3 separate regions of the Homo sapiens genome follow, and all the other regions are linked to region 3. Evidence: fine-mapped expression QTL. A gene starts in region 3. Each other region holds a variant in brackets. All regions are shown on one strand. Distances are between the middles of the regions. Region 1 overlaps GLDC (glycine decarboxylase). Region 2 overlaps GLDC (glycine decarboxylase). Region 3 holds the start of GLDC (glycine decarboxylase).

Region 1 (5,915 bases), 50 kb before region 3:
CCAAAGTGCTGGGATTACAGGCATGAGCCACCATCCCCAGCCTAGAGGCACTTTCAATGAAACACCATTAACAATCTTTCCAACTAGCCTGGGTGCATAATACTGGCTGGAGCCCTACAGCAGTGACCTCCAGCTGTCAGCAGTGACTAGCAAGGGATAGTCAGTGGAATAATTTTAACAACAAGCTACCAGTGTCACACTTGGGCCCCTTCTCCCTCACACTCAGGGGATAAGCTACTTTTGCTACCACCTCCAATAGTTATGATGAGGAACGCATGTTTTTATTTTACTTACTGCAGATGACTCACAACCAAAGATCCACAACAAATCGTCCAGATCTTTTTCATTGACTGTTTCATCAAGAGAAATACCAAGCTACAGAAACACAAACAAAATGGAAAACATCAACTCTAAACTCCACATCACTGGAGGAATCCCAAGAGAGGTCAAAGGGGAGACAGTGCTAAACAAAATCCCATCATTCCAAAATATCAGGGTACAATTATCTCCACGCTAAGGCTTAGAGGAAGGTGGCTAGACCAGTCCCAGGTTTCACAAGGCTTCGAGTTTTGCCAGCCACCTCTGAACTCTAACATTCCATGGCTGCAGGACACTCCTTTTGAAGCTAGACATGCTTATCTTTTTCTTCCCTTAACCCACTTATCAGATATTGAGGAGATTTTCTTCCCTTAACCTGTATATCAGTTATCAGAGCCTTTATCTTAAAGTCAGTCATACTGTGAAGAGAGGAGTATTATGAACAAAATATGTGCATTTCAGTCCCACATATGAAAACACTAAGTCTAAAAGAAAGCAAAGGGTGAATGATCCTTTACTGAAAAGACCACAGTGTTGCATAATGTAAATAACACTTGTTTATGAAAAAATAGGACTGTGCCTAAAGTTTTCCTTTTTATTTTTTAAAAACAAAGAGAAAACCTTTTAATGAGAAACAATGTGAAAATTTGAAAAACTGGTAAAAATACTGAAAATTTGACTTACTGTGCCATCCTCAAAAAGCCGAAAATTGATCTGCCGCTGAGCGGCCCTGCCCAAGACCTCCTTCACTGAGCAGCCACACTGAATCTTCAAGGTATCAAAGAACAGGTCATGCTGGAGTTGATGCCCTGCTCGCTTGAGACCTACACAAGATAGGAGATCCCCCAAACTCTCATATAGAAACCTGCTCCTCAGCCATTGACATGTCACAGAATAATAAAGAGATAAATTCTACTAGACTCTTGTTGGTCCTGGGGAGTGCTTTGGTGATTGCTTTTTAAAAAACTAAACATGTTTATTATCATGCTGTAGAAAATTATGAAATACATATAAAAGAGTAAGGAAAATCAACATACAATTGCATTACTGCGTGTATTTTGGTGTATTATTTCTCAAGAAATGGGGGAGCAGGTAGTATCAGATATATATATATATATATAAAATTATACCTTTTTTTTTTTGAGAGATACAGTCTCACTCTGTTGTCCAGGCTGGAATGCAGTGGCATGATCATAGCTGATTGCATCCTCAAACTCCTGGGCTCAAGCTCATGCAATCCCCTTGCCTCAGCCTCCCAAGTAACTGGGATCAAGGACTCATGCCATCACACCTGGCTAATAATTTTTTAAATTTTTTGAAGACAGTGATCTTGCCATGTTGCCCAGGCTGGCCTTGAACTCTGGGACTCAAGCAATTCTCCCACCTCAGCCTCCCAAAACGATGGGATTATAGGTGTGAACCACCACACCTGGTCTCATCTATGCTTTCCTATAGATCACTATTTTAAACCATATTTAATGGCTGTACAATAGTCAAACATATGGATGAACCATGATTTAATCACTTTTTTTTTTTTTTTTTGAGAGATGGAGTCTCACTCTGTTGCCCAGGATGGAGTACAGTGGAGCAATCTTGGCACACTGCAACCTCCGCCTCCTAAATTCAAGCAATTCTCCTGCCTCAGCCTCCCGAGTAGCTGGGACTACAGGAGTATGCCACCACTCCCAGCTGATTTTTGTATTTTTAGTAGAGACAGGGTTTCACCATGTTGGCCAGGCTGGTCTTGAACTCCTGACCTCAAGTGATCCACCCGCCTCAGCCTCCCAAAGTGCTAGGATTACAGGCATGAGCCACTGTGCCTGGCCTATTTCTATTTTTTTATAGAGATGTGGTCTCGCTCTTGCCCACGCTGGTCTTGAACTCCTGGCCTCAAGCAATCCTCCTGGCTCAGCCTCCAGAGTAGCTGACATTACATACACGAGTAACCATGTCTAGCTCACTACATAGCAGCATTCTTCTGATTGCCAATGTAATGGGATAAATACTAGTTTATTGCTTTATTTTGTATCTCTTTCATTAATAATGAGGCTAAAATTCTATGTCTACTGGCCATTTATTTGTATACTTATTTCTTTTAAAATTACATTTAATGTCTTTTGCCTATTTTTCTATTAGGGTGTTCATCCTTCTTATGTTTGGGGCCGGTAGGAAAGTAAGAGTTCTACATATTAAAAATATCACAGCTTGCCAGGAGTAAAAGAGAAAAAAATATTAACACTCAGTCTAAGCCAGGCATGGTGGCTCACGCCTGTAATCCCAGCACTTTGAGAGGCCAAAGTGGACGGATTTCTTGAGGTCAGGAATTCGAGACCAGCCTGGAAAACATGGCAAAGCCCTGTCTCTACCAAAAATACAAAAATTAGCCAGACATGGTGGCGTGTACCTTAATCCCAGTTACCTGAGAGGCTGAGGCAGGACAATCACATGAATCCGGGAAGTGGAGGTTACAGTGAGCTGAGATCGTGCCACTGCACTCCAGCCTGGGAGACAGAGCAAGACTCCATTAAGCAAGGAAGCAAGCAAGCAAGCAAGCAAGCAAACAAGAAAGCAAGAAAGCAAGCAAGCAAGAAAGCAAGCAAGCAAGAAAAAAAGAAAGAAAGCAAGAAAAAGGAAATAAAAGAAAGAAAGAAAGAAAGAAAGAAAGAAAAAGAAAGAGAAAGAAAGAAAGCAAAACAACAAAATAATCATGGATGTTGAAAGTATTTTTCCTCGTTTCTCACTTGACTTTTAATTTTGCATATAGTATTGGACATGCAATATTTTCAATTTTACTCAAATTTATCAATTTTA[T/C]TATGCCCAAATGTTTTAGACAGATTACCAACTCACCTTCTGACAAAATCAAAGTGGCATTATGTACCCTCCTAGCAATATGCTCCAGCCCATGGGAACCATGGTAGATTGCAAACATGGCAGCCATATTCGCCAAGAGGGCCTAAAAGATAAGAACATTTAAAGAATCACGTGATGGAGGACAATTAGTGGGAGGGTGTAATTACTTGACTTGGGATGTCAAAACTGAAGACAGCGACAAAACAAAATGATCAGATTTCCTACATTCTTTGATAGTTGGGGACAATTAATATATAACCTGCCTGACTACCTGAAAGGAACCATCATCCAAGACACCCTGGAGTTGTTACTATACTAAACCTTCACATTTGACCATTACGAAGGGCTTCTTCCATGCAACAAAATCATGTCACCCTTAAGGGCAAAGATCACACTACCATCAGACATTGAGAAGCAATGTTTAATGTTGGAAGACAGTGAAGCAATAAAGACCTCAGGGAGAAAAAGTGAGATCTGAGAATTTTACACTCAACCAGGCAATTCTTCAAGAATAAAAAGAAACAAGCAATTTTCAAACATTCAAGAACTTCAGGAATAAAATTCTCCTAAGAACTTAAATAAAACACTAGAGGCTGAACTTCTGCCAACCAAGAGTTGAATGGAGAATCTGTGGCAAAGGACTGGCAAAAACGGCAATGCGCACTTCAGCTGGGAGCGGGGTGGTGTGCAACTGTAGTCCCAGTGACTCCAGAAGCCGAGATGGATCACTTGAACCCAGGATTTCGAGGTTACAGTGACCTATGATTGCGCCACTGGACTCCAGCCCGGTTGACAATACAAAACCCTGTCTCTGCAAAATACAGTTGATGTTCAATACTGGGTCCATTTTGTTAGGTACATCTTTTTTTCTGCTAGACTACTAGAGGAAGTCTCTATGGAGCCAATGCAAAATAAGAAACAGTTTCCAAAGGTGAAGTCAGCAAACAAGGAAGTAAATGAGGAGAAAGAGACATCAGAAAACATGGAAGTAGGCATTCTTGTACTAAAAGTCCTAGACAAAGTGTAAACACTCTTATGGACTCCTTACAACAATCAGAAATAAACACAGAAACTCCACAGCACTTTACAGCTGTGGAAAAGGCGAGGCTGAGGTAAAGAATCTGTGACACACTGTGCCCAAATGCTCATGGCTGTGTTGCTGGAAACAGAAACCCAGGCCTGACATTCACAGAATGCCCTGGCAGCCTCCACCACAATATTGTAGAGGTTGGTTCATGTCCCTTTTTAATCTACAGATGATTCCTTCCATAATCAGGAGGCTATATCACACGGCTGAACAACAAATTGATGAGAAGTATAAAACCACTTTTTAAAAACTTCAAAGGGCACTAGAATATCAAAAGAAGAACCAAAAAAATTAAAATAGAGACCAAGAAAATGACAATTTCTTTCACAAATTGAACAAACTTAAAAATACAAAGGGCTTGAATCAGTGGCTCACGCCTGTAATCCCAAGACTTTGGGAGGCTAAGGTGGGAGGATTGCTTTAGCCCAGGAGTTAAAGACCAGCAAGAAGAACATAACAAGACCCCATCTCTAAAATAAATAAATAAAATAACAATAATACAATTAAGGTACTTAAAAGCCTCAAAAGCTAATGAATGCTCAAAATCATTAGTTATTAGGGAAATACAAAACAAAACCACAGTGAGATTATCACTTGACATCCAATAGGATGGCTATAACCAAAGGATAGGAAGTAACAAGCATTGGTGAAAATACGGAGAAATTAGAATATTCATATGCTGCTGGTAGGAAAGTAAAATAATGCAGCCACTTTGAAAAATGTCTGGAAGTTCCTCAAAATGTTAAATGTAGAGTTATATGACCCAGCAATTTCACTGCTAGGAATATAACCAAAAGAACTGAAAACATTACATCCATACAAAAATTTACACAGAAGTGTTCACAGCAGGCTTATTTGAAACACCCCAAATGTTTACCAATTGATGAATGGATAAACAAAATGTAGCATGTCCAAACAATGGGATATTACCCAGCCATAGAAAAGAATTAAGTACACATTCATGCTACAATATGGATGAACCTTGAAAACCTTATGCAAAGAAGCCAGGTACAAAAGGCCACACATTGTATGATCCCATTTATATGAAATATTCAGAACAGGCAAATCCAGGGAGACAGAAAGTAGAATAGTAGTTGCCAGGGGCTATAGGAAGGGGAGAGGGATGAGGAGTGACTACTTCATAGGAATAGAATTTCTTTTTGGGGTAATAAAAATATTCTGAAATTAAATACTGGTGATAGTTGCACAACCTTGTAAATAGAGTAAAAACCATTGAGCTGTATACTTGCAATTGGTGAAACTTACGGTGAGTTACATCTCAATAAAAAAAGCTAATAAAGTGTAAATTATTCTTTACTACACCTGACTTTAGAAAAGCCAACAAGGCTGGATGCAGTGGCTCACACCAGTGATCCCAACACTTTGGGAGGCTGAGGCAGGAGGATCGCTTGAGGCCTGGAGATCAATACTAGCCTGGGCAACAAAGTAAGACTCCCATCTCTATTTTAAAAAGATTTTTATATTAAAAATAAGAAAAGCCAATGAAAGAGCTGCTCATTGTGGTAGAAGCTAAGAAATAAGAGAATATATGGCCGGGCATGGTGGCTAACGCCTGTAATCCCAGCACTTTGGGAGGCTGAGGCAGGTGGATCATGAGGTCAGGAGATCGAGACCATCCTGGCTAACATGGTGAAACCCT
Region 2 (5,915 bases), 40 kb before region 3:
ATTACTGATTTTTTTTTTTTTTTTTGAGACGGAGTTTCGCTCTTTCGCCCAGGCTGGAGTGCAATGGCGTGATCTCGGCTCACTGCAACCTCTGCCTTCTGGTTTCAAACGATTCTACTGCATCAGCCTCCTGACACCACGCCCAGCTAATTTTTGTATTTTTAGTAGAGATGGGGTTTCACCATGTTGGCCAGGCTGGTCTTGAACTCCTGGCCTCAGGTGATCCGCCTGCCTTGGCCTCCCAAAGTGCTGGGATTACAGGCATGAGCCACTGTGCCCAGCAGGATTACTGATTTTTAGACTGTACTCTGAGACACCAAGATATATACAATAAGTCTAGGAATTTTGAAAGAAAATTTTGCAGGAATTTCCCAGACAAATACAATAATGGTGACTGGGAGGATTAAGTTTCACTCTGAACTTCTTAGGAGACACAGGAAAAGTGGAAATATACGACAAAATTGAAAAGACTTGGCTCTCTGTGGATTCTACACCACAGATTCCACCAATCACGGACTGAAAACATTCAAAAAAATAAAAAATAATACAACAATTAAAAATCACACAAATTTTATGAGCCGCGCATGGTGGCTCATGTCTATAATCCCAGCACTTTGGGGGGCCAAGGTGGGCGGATCACCTGAGGTCCAGAGTTTGAGACCAGCCTGGCCAACATGGTGAAACCCCATCTCTACTAAAAATACAAAAATTAGCCAGACATGGTGACAGGCACCTGTAATCTCAGTTACTTGGGAGGCTGAGGCTCAAGAATCACTTGAACCTGGGAGGCAGAGGTTGCAGTGAGCCAAGATCGTACCACTGCACTCCAGCCTGGGTGACAGAGAGAGACTCCGTCTCAAAAAATAAAAAAAAAAAAACAAATCACACAAATTTTTAAAAACAATACAGTGTAACAACCATTGCATAACATTAGGTGTTAATAAGATGATTTAAAGTATACAGAGGCCAGGCATGGTGGCTTACACCTGGTAATCCGAGCATTTTGGGAGGCTGGGGTGGGCAGATCACTTGAGCCCTAAGACCAGCCTGAGCAATATGGTGAAACCCTGTTTTTACAAAAAATTTAAAAAATTAGTTGGACACAGTGGCCACGTTTACACCACTGCACTCCAGCCTGGGTGATGGAGTGAGACTTGGTCTCAAAATAAATAAATAAATAAATAAATAAAATTTTAAAAAAACACACTTCACATTATCATCACATCATTGACTAATTCAGCTTACTCACTTATGTTAAAGTCCAGCTTTTATCAAAGGTCAAAAACATAATTTTTTTTTCTAAATTTCCCCAGTAATAATCCTGGAATGCATCTAGGTCCCCCGCTCCTTTTTTTTCCTTTTTTTTCTTTTTTTTTTTTGAGATGGAGTCTCGCTCTGCACCCAAACTGGAGTGAGGCAGCGCGATCTCGGCTCACTGCAACCTCCACCTCCGTGGTTCAAGTGATTCTCCTGCCTCTGCCTCCCAAGTAGCTGGGACTACAGGCGCCCACCACCACGCCCACCTAATTTTTGTATTTTTAGTAAAGACAGGGTTTCACCATATTGGCCAGGCTCGTCTGGGACTCCTGACCTTGTGATCTGCCTGACTCGGCCTCCCAGAATGCTGGGATTACAGGTGTGAGCCACCGCACCCAGCCCTTTTTTTCTTTTCTTTTCTTTTTTTTTTAAGGAACAAAGACTACTTCTGAACATCTACGTTTTTAATCTGAGAAGTTTCACCAATGAGAAGCAGTCAGGAAAGTACATTTGGAAATTTGGAAATTACTCAAATGGCCACGTGGCGGAAGCCTCTAGGAAGGAACGCGGAGCAAACTCAGTGTGTACTTTGCAGTCTCAGTGCATTTGTCTTTACAGAGCCACGTGGCATAATGCTTTTGAGAACGAAAACTGTCGAGACACAAAACATGCCTAAAATATTTAGTCTTTCAAGGCGTCCATCAATCTAAGCAAATGCGTTACATGACTTCGATACATTGTAAATTATACACAAAATTTTTCAAAAATTTACAAATTTATAGTATTTGAGAAGTACTAGCTCATATCCCAAACAGAATTGTTCTTCTGAATCTATGTTGTACATTTCCTTAACTGACTCAACATGGCCCAGTTGAATTCAGATAGAAATCAACATTTGTGATCAGAAGAAATCAGGGAAATCATAATCACAATAAAAGTAGAGAAACATGAGCCCCTTTACCTTGTTACCCCCACCATTCTTCCAGGCATCATTCTCACCAAGCTTTCTCGGACAGCAAAAAATGCTGCATGGGGTCCCCCATAGCCCAGTGGCACTCCAAATCTCTGGGAGCTGCCCAGGGCGATGTCTACCCCAAATTCTCCAGGTGGCCTCAAGATGCACAAAGCTAAAAGGTCAGTAGCACAGCAGGCCAGGCTCTAGAAAGGAAGTGAGAGAAAAGGAACAAGGTTGCTACCTTTCCCTGAGAGTAGTGGGAGAGTAGGAAATTATCTTAACTACAGGAAGACGGGCAGAGTGTGTTCACATCCTGTGAACTCCATTGCTCATTCATTCATTCAGTAAATACATACTGAGTGCCCACCATGTGCCAGGAATCCGGGAACAGAAAAAAGTAGCAGCAAGGAGTCAGGAAGGAGAGTTTTACCATTCCATGTGATAATGGTAAAGAAATTAAGGCACATGAAAAGACAGAGAGAGAGATAGGTAGACAGATACAAGTTGGGATACGCCTCCACGGACCCCCCACAAGAAAGGTATACCTACCCCACTCTGATGAGCTCTCTCCACGAGTTCCGTAAAGTCTTCCACCTTCCCCTCCGTGTCTGGGTACTGGAACAACACTCCACTGACATCTTTTCCACTGAAGTCCATTTCACAGGGTAACTTCAGCTCAGTGAGGACTCCAGTATATCTGGAAAGACAGACAACAAAGAACAATCGTGCTTTCGGTTTATAAGGGAAAATTAATTAACGTTTCTTTTCCAGTAAGACAGCATTCATTTTCTGTGCCCTCCCACAGTGGCCTCCCACCCCTGCCCACATCCCGTCCCACAGGCACTTCAGTGGTAACTACATCACAGCAACTCAAGCGCATCCAACAGCTCTGCTTCTGTTCCTCTCTTCTATCCTCTGACTCCCCTTTGCCCTTTCCTGTCACAATCTACTCCTCAGAGAGGCCCAAGAGCATTGCTTCCTAGGGCTAATGAGCCAATATTTGTTAACAACAGAGCCATCACCTCTTTCACTGGCATCACTCTTAAG[T/C]GAATGGAAAACCATAAGTAAGACAAGGAGGAAGAACTTCCTTAGATTCCTGAACTAATAATGCCAATTATATGTCAGAAACCCCCCCTCTGAAGGGATGGTGGTATGGGTAGGGGGAAGAATGCTCAACTTTTACAAAGGGAAAGCAAATATCTACCAATAGTGGTTGTTGCGAGGATTGTTTTACCTGATTACAGCACGAAAGAAAAGTACTACACTTTAAACTACATAGCATCTCACCTAGGGACTCTGCACACCCTCTGTAAACTACGTTTGCAAGGAATACACACAAAATCTTAACAGTTGTATGTGAGTCCCATTTTTCTCTGTTTTTCAAACGTTCCAAAACCTGATCAAAACAATATTTTTATTCTTTCTACAAAAAGAAAACAAAACGGGCCGGGCGCAGTGGCTCAAGCCTGTAATCCCAGGACTTTGGGAGGCGGAGGTGGGCGGGTCACGAGGTCAGGAGATCAAGACCATCCTGGCTAACACGGTGAAACTCCGTCTCTACTAAAAATAGAAAAAAAATTAGCCAGGCGTGGTGGCGGGCACCTGTAGTCCCAGCAACTCGGGAGGCTGAGGCAGGACAATGGCGTGAACTTGGGAGGCGGAGCTTGCAGTGAGCCTAGGTTCCCTCAACTGCACTCCAGCCTGGACGACAGAGCGAGACTCCGTCTCAAAAAAAAAAAAAAAAAAAAGAAGAAGAAGAAAACAAAACACAACTTACTATAAAGCAATGGCAATTGTGTATTTCCCCACTCAATTCTGACACAGTTTACTTACCAGAGAGATGCCCAGAAGAAAGTGAGAGGTAAGGCAAAACTCAGCAACCCCAATTTAAACAGCAAAAAACCCTGTTTCAGATTCACCTCCAATCAGTTTGGAAGTGAGAAAGAGAAAGAAACAGCAGAGATGAACATGACATTATACTGAGTTTAAAACACGAATCAAATTAATTACTTGGCTCGAGTCTGGACAACAGCTATTGTCTGTGGGTGGCAACGGGGATCAACGAGAAATTTCCTCCTCTTGTTGTGTCTGTTGAAAAGAAAAAGCACATTCCAACGTGAACATTAAATAAATAGGACTATCTTCTAAGAACGCAAAGCAAACATAGTACCGAGGGTAAGTCTAAGCACAGTATAAAAAATACTGAGTAGGCCGGGTGCGGTGGCTCACGCCTGTAATCCCAGCACTTTGGGAGGCCGAGGCGGGCAGATTACCTGAGGTCAGGAGTTCGAGACCAGCCTGGCCAACGTGATAAAACCTCGTCTCTACTAAAAATACAAAATTAGCCGGTGCATGCCTGTAATCCCGGCTACTTGGGAGGCTGAGGCCAGAGAATCACTTGAACCAGGGAGGCCGAGGTTGCAGTGAGCCAAGATTGCACCGCTGCTGCACTCCATCCTGCGTAAGACGAGCAAAACTCTGTCTCAAAAAAAAAATTTAAAAAAAAATTGAGTCATCAGTAACTAATGGCATTTACTGATTAGCATTCCTCATAGATCCAATTCCCATTCTAACCCCATTTAGAAAGTCAGTCTTAAGATGGTTCAATTTCTATGTTTACTCAATAACAATTTTTAAAAAATGGTTCAAAATGTTTCAAATATACCATGAGGAAAAAGAAAATAAAGCAAAGGACAGTGATTAGATACAAGTGTAAACTGGACAGGTGCGGTGGCTCACACCTGTAATCCCAGCACTACGGGAGGCCGAGGTGCGTGGATCACCTGAGGTCAGGAGTTCAAGACCAGCCTGACCAACATAGCAAAACCCCAGCTCTACTAAAACTACAAAACGTAGCCAGGCATGGTGGTGCACGCCTGTAATCCCACTACTCGGGAGGATGAGGCAGGAGAATTGCTTGAACCCGGGAGGCAGAGGTTGCAGTGAGCCAAGATCGCCTCACTGCACTCCAGCCTAGGCCACAGAGCGAGACTCTGTCTTAAATAAATAAATACATACATACATAAATTAATAAATAAAATAGTTTATTTATTTATTTTTATTTTATTTTTGGTGGGGGGAGAACAGGGTCTCGGTCTATCGCTCAGGCTGGAGTGCAGTAGCGCCATCACAGCTCACTGCAACCTCGACCTCCAAGGTTCAAGTGCTCCTTCCACCTCAGCACCCCGCCCCTACATAGTTGGGACTACGGGCATGTGCCACCATGCCCAGCCAATTTTTGTATTAAAAAAATAAAATTGGCCGGTCATGGTGGCTCACGCCTGTAATCCTTATACTTTGGGAGGCTGAGGTGGGTGGATTGCTCGAGCTCAGGGGTTCAAGACCAGCCTGGGCAACATGGCAAAACCCTATCTCTACAAAAAATACAAAAATTAGCTGGGCATGGTGGCATGGGCCTATAGTCCCAGCTGCTTGGGGGGATGAGGCAAGAGGATTACTTGAACTGGGGAAGTCAAGGCTGCAGTGAGCTGAGATCGTGCACCCCAGCCTGGGTGACAAAGTCAAACCCTGCCTCAAAAAAACAATTGAGGGCCGGGCGGGGTGGTTCACGCCTGTAATCCCAGCACTTTGGGAGGCCGAGGCGGGCAGATCACGAGGTCAGGAGATCGAGACCCTCCTGGCTAACAGGGTGAAACCCCATCTCTACTAAAAATACAAAAAAAAAAAACCCTTAGCCGGGCGT
Region 3 (5,915 bases):
AAAATTTATATGGCATGGGCATGGTGGCTCATGCCTGTAATCCCAGCATTTTGGGAGGCCAAGGTGGGTGGATCACCTGAGGTCAGGAGTTCAAGACCAGCCTGGCCAACATGGAGAAACCCCATCTCTACTAAAAATACAAAAAATTAGCCGGGCATGGTGGTGCACGTCTGTAATCCCAGCTACTCAGGAGGCTGAGGCAGGAGAATGGCTTGAACCGGGGAGGCAGAGGTTGTAGTGAGTAGAGATCATGCCACTGCACTCCAGCCTGGGCAACAGAACAAGAATCCATTTCAAAAATAAAAATAAAAAATAAAAAAATTAAGTTTATATTCAAGTTGCAAATTACTTTTCAGGAGCCCACTTCCACAGTGAAGAATCAGAATCCCTTAATGTTCAAATTATTCAGCTGGAACCAAGAACTAAACTAAAAAAGGATACACAACTTTGCCATGTTTCCCAGGCTCTAATGCTCTGAAAAGAACACTTTATTTTAGAGTATATATATTATAAAAATAGCTAACCTAAACATTCCCTGACTTTGAAAGTCTCAGGAAGGGATTCACTTGTTCAAATATTCACCTAAAATACCCTGCTTTAAAGATACACAACTCTTCACTCTTCACACATCAAATGAATTAGGATTCTGATTTTTTCTTTTCTTCCTTTCTCTTTTTTTTTTAGACAGGGTCTCACTCTGTTACTCAGGTGGAAGTGCAGTGGAGCCATCTTGGCTCGCTGCAACCTCCACTGCCCAGCTCAAGTGTTTCTGCCACATTAGCCTCCGGAGTAGCTGGGATTACAGGCGCACACCACCACACCCGGCTAATTTTTGTATTTTTTGTAGAGATGGGGTCTCGCAATATTGCCCAAACTGGTCTCAAACTGCTGGCCTCAAGCGATCCACCTGCCTAGACCTCCCAAAATGCTGAGATTATAGGCATTTGCCACCGTGCCCAGCCAGGATTCTGATTTTCTAAAATGGAAATAGATAAGGCTTCCCTCCGACCATCCCTAAATCTCAATTAGTTCAATTCAGCAAAACATGCAGGTTTTCAACGACCATCAGATTTGAAACCAACAAAGGCAGCAGCCCTCAGCATAGCCTGAGCAGCCAACCTGAAGCAGATAGGCTCCATACCTCAAATGTCCACCTTCAAACAAAATAAAGCTTGCCATCTGCACACTAGATCCTTTCTATCATAGCAACAAAATAAAACAGCTGCTCTCTCTTCATTTGACTCTAGAAGAAAAAGAGATAAGTATCTCCATGATTGAAAGTGAGATAACCAGATGAGATTTTTTTTAAGAGCTCAGCCTGTGCCCTTGACTTATGGATTGTCCCCCCACCCCATGGAAGTCAAATACCCACATAAAAATACCCCTGAAAAGCAATCTTGGACCATTAAAAATATTTTAAACCTAAAATAAAATTCTAAGAAAGTCTATGACTAAACTGACCTTTCTTAAACAAATGTAAATCTTATTTGTGTGTTTTTCTAGAAAAACCATTCGGGGTAGGGCACAGTGACTCGTGCCTGTAATCCCAGCATTTTGGGAGGCCGAGGCAGACGGATTGCCTGAGGTCAGGAGTTCGACACCAGCCTGGCCAACATGAAGAAACCCTGTCTCTAATAAAAATATAAAAATGAGCCTGGTGTGGTGGTGCGCCCCTGTAATCCCAGCTAGTCAAGAGGCTGAGGCAGGAGAATTGCTTGAACCAGGGAGGCGGAGGTTGCAGTGAGCCGAGATCAAGCCACAGCACTCCAGCCTGGGCGACAGAGATTCTGTCTCAAAAAAAAAAAAAAAAAAAAACGAAAAAAAAAAGAAAAGAAAAGAAAAACCATTCGGACTCGAAAAGTACTGCTGTCTTTCAGTTGGTAAATAATAAAATTTGGACGTGAGGTAAGAAAACAATTGGAAGATACTGCGATCTAAAGAAGCCTGGGGGAGGGAGGCGAGATGTCTGGTCACTTCCCCAGTTGCACGACCTTAGGCAATTCCTAGATCCTTTGAGTCTATCCGGGTCTGCGCAGGTAATGACACCTCTCAACCCAAAGTATGAGAGCACCCTGGCCGGTGAGAGGGTGCCTGGGAAGTGGGGAATCTGCTACAAAACGCAGGGGAAGCTCGCGGGGGCCCTAGGATAAAGACCAAGAACCGCACAACACCGACTCTCTCCTAACACAAAACTGTCTGCTCCGAGAACCAAATATCCCACCTTCCCGCGGCTCCGGAGGTACCCGCCACTGTTTTATTTTAATCCACACATTCCCAGTCCTGAGCAATCCTTACCCCAGAGCTCGATTTTCAGGGAACCACAAAAGACAAATAGGCCAGAATAATCTAAGTCCAAGGGAGCCCTCCCGGCCACTTACAAACAGGGTCTTCCATTTTCAAGGGTCTTTTCAAACGGATGTTGGCAGGGACCGTCTTCTCGATCAATTCATCAATGCTCTAAAATTAAAACGCAAGGCAGAGGAAAGTGCCTCTGAGTTAAAAGAGTCACCTCTGTGTTTTGCGACTACAAAGCCTTGTGGGAACCTCATTGAAATCGCCTAATTAGGGTTCTTTTTAAAAGAAAAGGAAAACTCTGAGCAAGCCAGAATGATTTGGAGGAAAGAAAATCGTGAAGTGGGGTGGAGATTCCGCCACTCGGGGTTGGATTTCAGTTGCAACCGGAGCTAACCGGTAAGCCCACTCTTAATCAGGGGGTCTTCCTCCTCTTGCAAAGTTTAGGTCCATCCACAGGGCCACTTGGGCTGGGGGTGGTTTAAAAATGTACACTTTTGAGGCACGAAGACTGGGTGCAGGAGAAAGTAAGCTGTTAAGAAGTAAGAAGGCACGAGGACCAAAGGCACGAATTTGCTTCCACGCCACGGCCCGGGACCCAGGGTGCGGGGACCACGCGGAGCGCAGCAGAGCTCAGGGTAGGAGCCGGGAGGCCGCGCAGGCAGAGCCCGGGCAGGGCGGAGGGGAGGCCGCGGAGGGCCGGGTGGAGGTCCTTACCGCCAGCCCCAAGGTCTGCAGCATCTCTCTCTGGTCTTTGTCCCCAGGGCCGATGTGCCTCCGAGCGAAGTCGTCGTGTCTGGGCAGAAGGCGCTCCAGGAGGCGCGAGGCCCCAGCCGCGGCGCTGTCCCCGCCGCCACTGCTGCTGTCCCGGCTCCGCGGCGCCCAGCACGGCCCCGATCCCCCAGCCAGGCGGCGGCCGCCCCCGACCCCGCGGCCCAGGCGCAGCCCCCACGCCCTGGCACAGGACTGCATGGCCGCGGCCACCGTCCCCTGCCCCGGCCCGCAAGGGTCAGCCGCGCTCTTGGCCCCTCTCCTGGCCTCGGTCCCCCGGGTGGCGGCTGCGCCCGGCCTGGAGCCCCTTTCGCTGGACAGTCGGCCGGACAGATGGATGGACGCTCGCGGGCAATGAATGGGCGCTGCGCTCAACCAAGACACTCGCGCAAAGTTGTGGCTCCACCCAAGGCACCTGCTCCGCACACTTTAAGCGGCGCCCTGGAGGCGGGAGGTGGGTTGGGGCCAGGAAGCCCTTGGCCAATGAAAGTAGACAGAGGGGGAGGGGGCGGAACAGTTCCCGCCCCCGCCCCCTCTTCCTACCCTCTTCCCAGCCCTTCCGTGGAGTCCCGCTTCCCCTGGACCGGAGGCTGCCATCTCCAGTCCTACCCACTCCGACGCTGGCTGGTGCCGGGGGCCGGGACGCTCCGTACGCCGCCCGCCAGGGTGTGGAGCCGCACTGGGGCAAGATCAGGTGGGACAGCCCAAAGACTCCGGGCCAAGTTCCTGGGGGACTCGGCGGAGATGGAAGATGATTCTCGAAGCTCTCCATTTCCTTAATTTTGAGGTATCTTTCTCTGTCACATTTCATCTCAGGGAAATTAATATGGGCAGATGGCGGTTCTTTTATCTTTGCGGGAGCGTGATAAAGTTACTCAACCTCTCAGAGCTTCAGTTTTCTCATCTCAACAGAGCTGGATGGGATTTTAAAAAGAGATTATATGTACATGGAAAGCACTTGAACAGTAGATTTGAACACCCTCTCTATATTTCTTTTCTTTTCTTTCTTCCTTCTTTCTCCTCCTCCTCCTCCTCCTCCTTCTTCTCACTCTCTCTCTTTCTCTCTCTTCCCCCCCACCACATGTAACGCTATGGCTCACGCCTGTAATCGCAACACTTTCGGAAACCGACGCGGTAGGATAGCTTGAGCCCAGGAGTTCGAGACCAGCTTGGGCAGCATTGTGAAACCCTGTCTCTACAAAAAATACAAAAATTAGTGGGGCGTGGTTGCGTGCTTCTGAAGTCCCAGCTACTCTGGAGGCTGAGGTGGGAGGATTGCTTGAGTCAGGGAGTTTCAGGCTGCAGTGAGATGTGATCGCACCACTGCACTCCAGCGTGGGCCACAGAACGAGACTCAGGAAAAAAAAAAAAAAAAGAACTGTGTGTGTGTGTGTATATGTTTTTTTAAATATATGTACTGTATATACATATACGTGTGTGTGTAAAACTACAAAGGATATTTTGTTGTTGTTTTTGAGACGGAATCTCGCTCTGTCGCCCTGGCTGGAGTGCAGTGGCGCGATCTTGGCTCACTGCAACCTCCACCTCCCGGGTTCAAGCGATTGTCCTGCCTCAGGCTCCTGAGTAGCTGGGACTACAGGCACGTGCCACCACGGCCGGCCATTTTTTATTTTTATTTTTAGTAGAGACGGGGTTTCACCGTTTTAGGCAGGATGGTCTCGATCTCCTGACCTCGTGATCCGTCATTACAGGCGTGAGCCACTGCGCCCAGCAAAAGTACAAAGGATATTAAGATAGACATTGTTCACTGTCGTCTTACTTTGAAAGTTAGCCATCTAGAACTGGATTTTTTGTAAATGTACCATCTCCAGCTGTCTCATGACAGTTTTAGCAAGAGAATGAACTTTTAAAATTCCAGTTGTTCTAATATGGGGAAGAGAGGACAGAAGTAATCAGAACATTACTTGTACTTAGACTAGGGGAAAATAAAACCTGTTCTCTTTCTTGCTTATCTGCTAAGTTTCCTCCTCCAATCACCCTTAACAGATTCTGGGCTCCGTACCCAGGAGGCACAGACTATCCAGAGAGGCAGGAAAGTAGAGATGGAAAAGAGGGCAGGAAAATACACCACAAAGAACAGTAGGTAAAATGTCTGTATGGCAGACGGAGGCGGGTGGTGAGCTAGGACGGCTGGGCTGAATGTCTCCGAAAAGTTTTTCGGCCATTTGGAATTGAAATTACAACCTTCATAAAAGTTGGGAGATCTCCTCAGTGCCAGATGGTGGGGGTTGTGGGGAAGGATTGGAGGGAGGAGGTAATCTGCATTTATTCCTATTCCTGTCTATGTTGTTTCTATGTATCAGAGGGACTGGAAGCCAGGGAACAATAATTCCCAGATCCCTTTGGCTCCGTGGTGATGGATGTTATTTGCCTTCTGCCAAAAAAAAACATGTATATATACACACATATATGTATATGAGAATTGGGGCCGGGTGCGGTGGCTCACTCCTGTAATCCCAGCACTTTGGGAGGCCGAGGCGGGCAGGTCACTTGAGGACAGGAGTTCAAGACCAGCTTGGCCAAGATGGCGAAACTCAATCTCTACTACAAATATGAAAAAAAATTTAGCCAAGTTTGGTGGGCGTGCTTGTAGTCCTAGCTACTCAGGAGGCTAAGGCATGAGAATCACTTGAACCTGGGAAACAGAGGTTGCAGTGAGCGGAGAGCGCACCACTGCACTCCAACCTGGGTGATAGAGCAAGACTCTGCCTAAAAAAAAAAAAAGAGAGAGAGAGAGAATTGGGAAATGGAACAAAGGTAAAAACTGTTTTCTTATTTTCTGACTGCAGCAGACAGATGCATGGACCACTGCAGACATGACATGCTTCCTT

The links. PIP is the estimated chance that this variant, and not a neighbour inherited with it, causes the effect. A credible set is the group of variants that fine-mapping cannot tell apart.
Region 1: its variant is the best candidate, but not a certain one, in a credible set for the expression of GLDC in lung (GTEx, PIP 0.55).
Region 2: its variant is the best candidate, but not a certain one, in a credible set for the expression of GLDC in whole blood (INTERVAL, PIP 0.52).

What each region holds. Positions count from the first base shown.
Region 1 is chr9:6,591,849-6,597,763 of GRCh38, forward strand. It overlaps GLDC (glycine decarboxylase), which reads right to left. Exons shown (of 25, transcript NM_000170.3): 9 at 3,166-3,271; 10 at 1,003-1,142; 11 at 295-375. Among named protein-coding and RNA genes, the nearest start is that of GLDC, 51 kb to the right of the region's middle. The variant T/C (reference allele first, on the strand shown) is at 3,130.
Region 2 is chr9:6,602,370-6,608,284 of GRCh38, forward strand. It overlaps GLDC (glycine decarboxylase), which reads right to left. Exons shown (of 25, transcript NM_000170.3): 5 at 4,223-4,300; 6 at 2,762-2,909; 7 at 2,219-2,415. Among named protein-coding and RNA genes, the nearest start is that of GLDC, 40 kb to the right of the region's middle. The variant T/C (reference allele first, on the strand shown) is at 3,260.
Region 3 is chr9:6,642,236-6,648,150 of GRCh38, forward strand. It overlaps GLDC (glycine decarboxylase), which reads right to left and starts at 3,494. Exons shown (of 25, transcript NM_000170.3): 1 at 3,010-3,494; 2 at 2,379-2,457. The coding sequence starts at 3,264. RefSeq lists enhancers at 2,704-3,261, 4,242-4,351, 4,402-4,501, 5,488-5,915 and silencers at 2,942-3,011, 3,052-3,251, 3,322-3,571.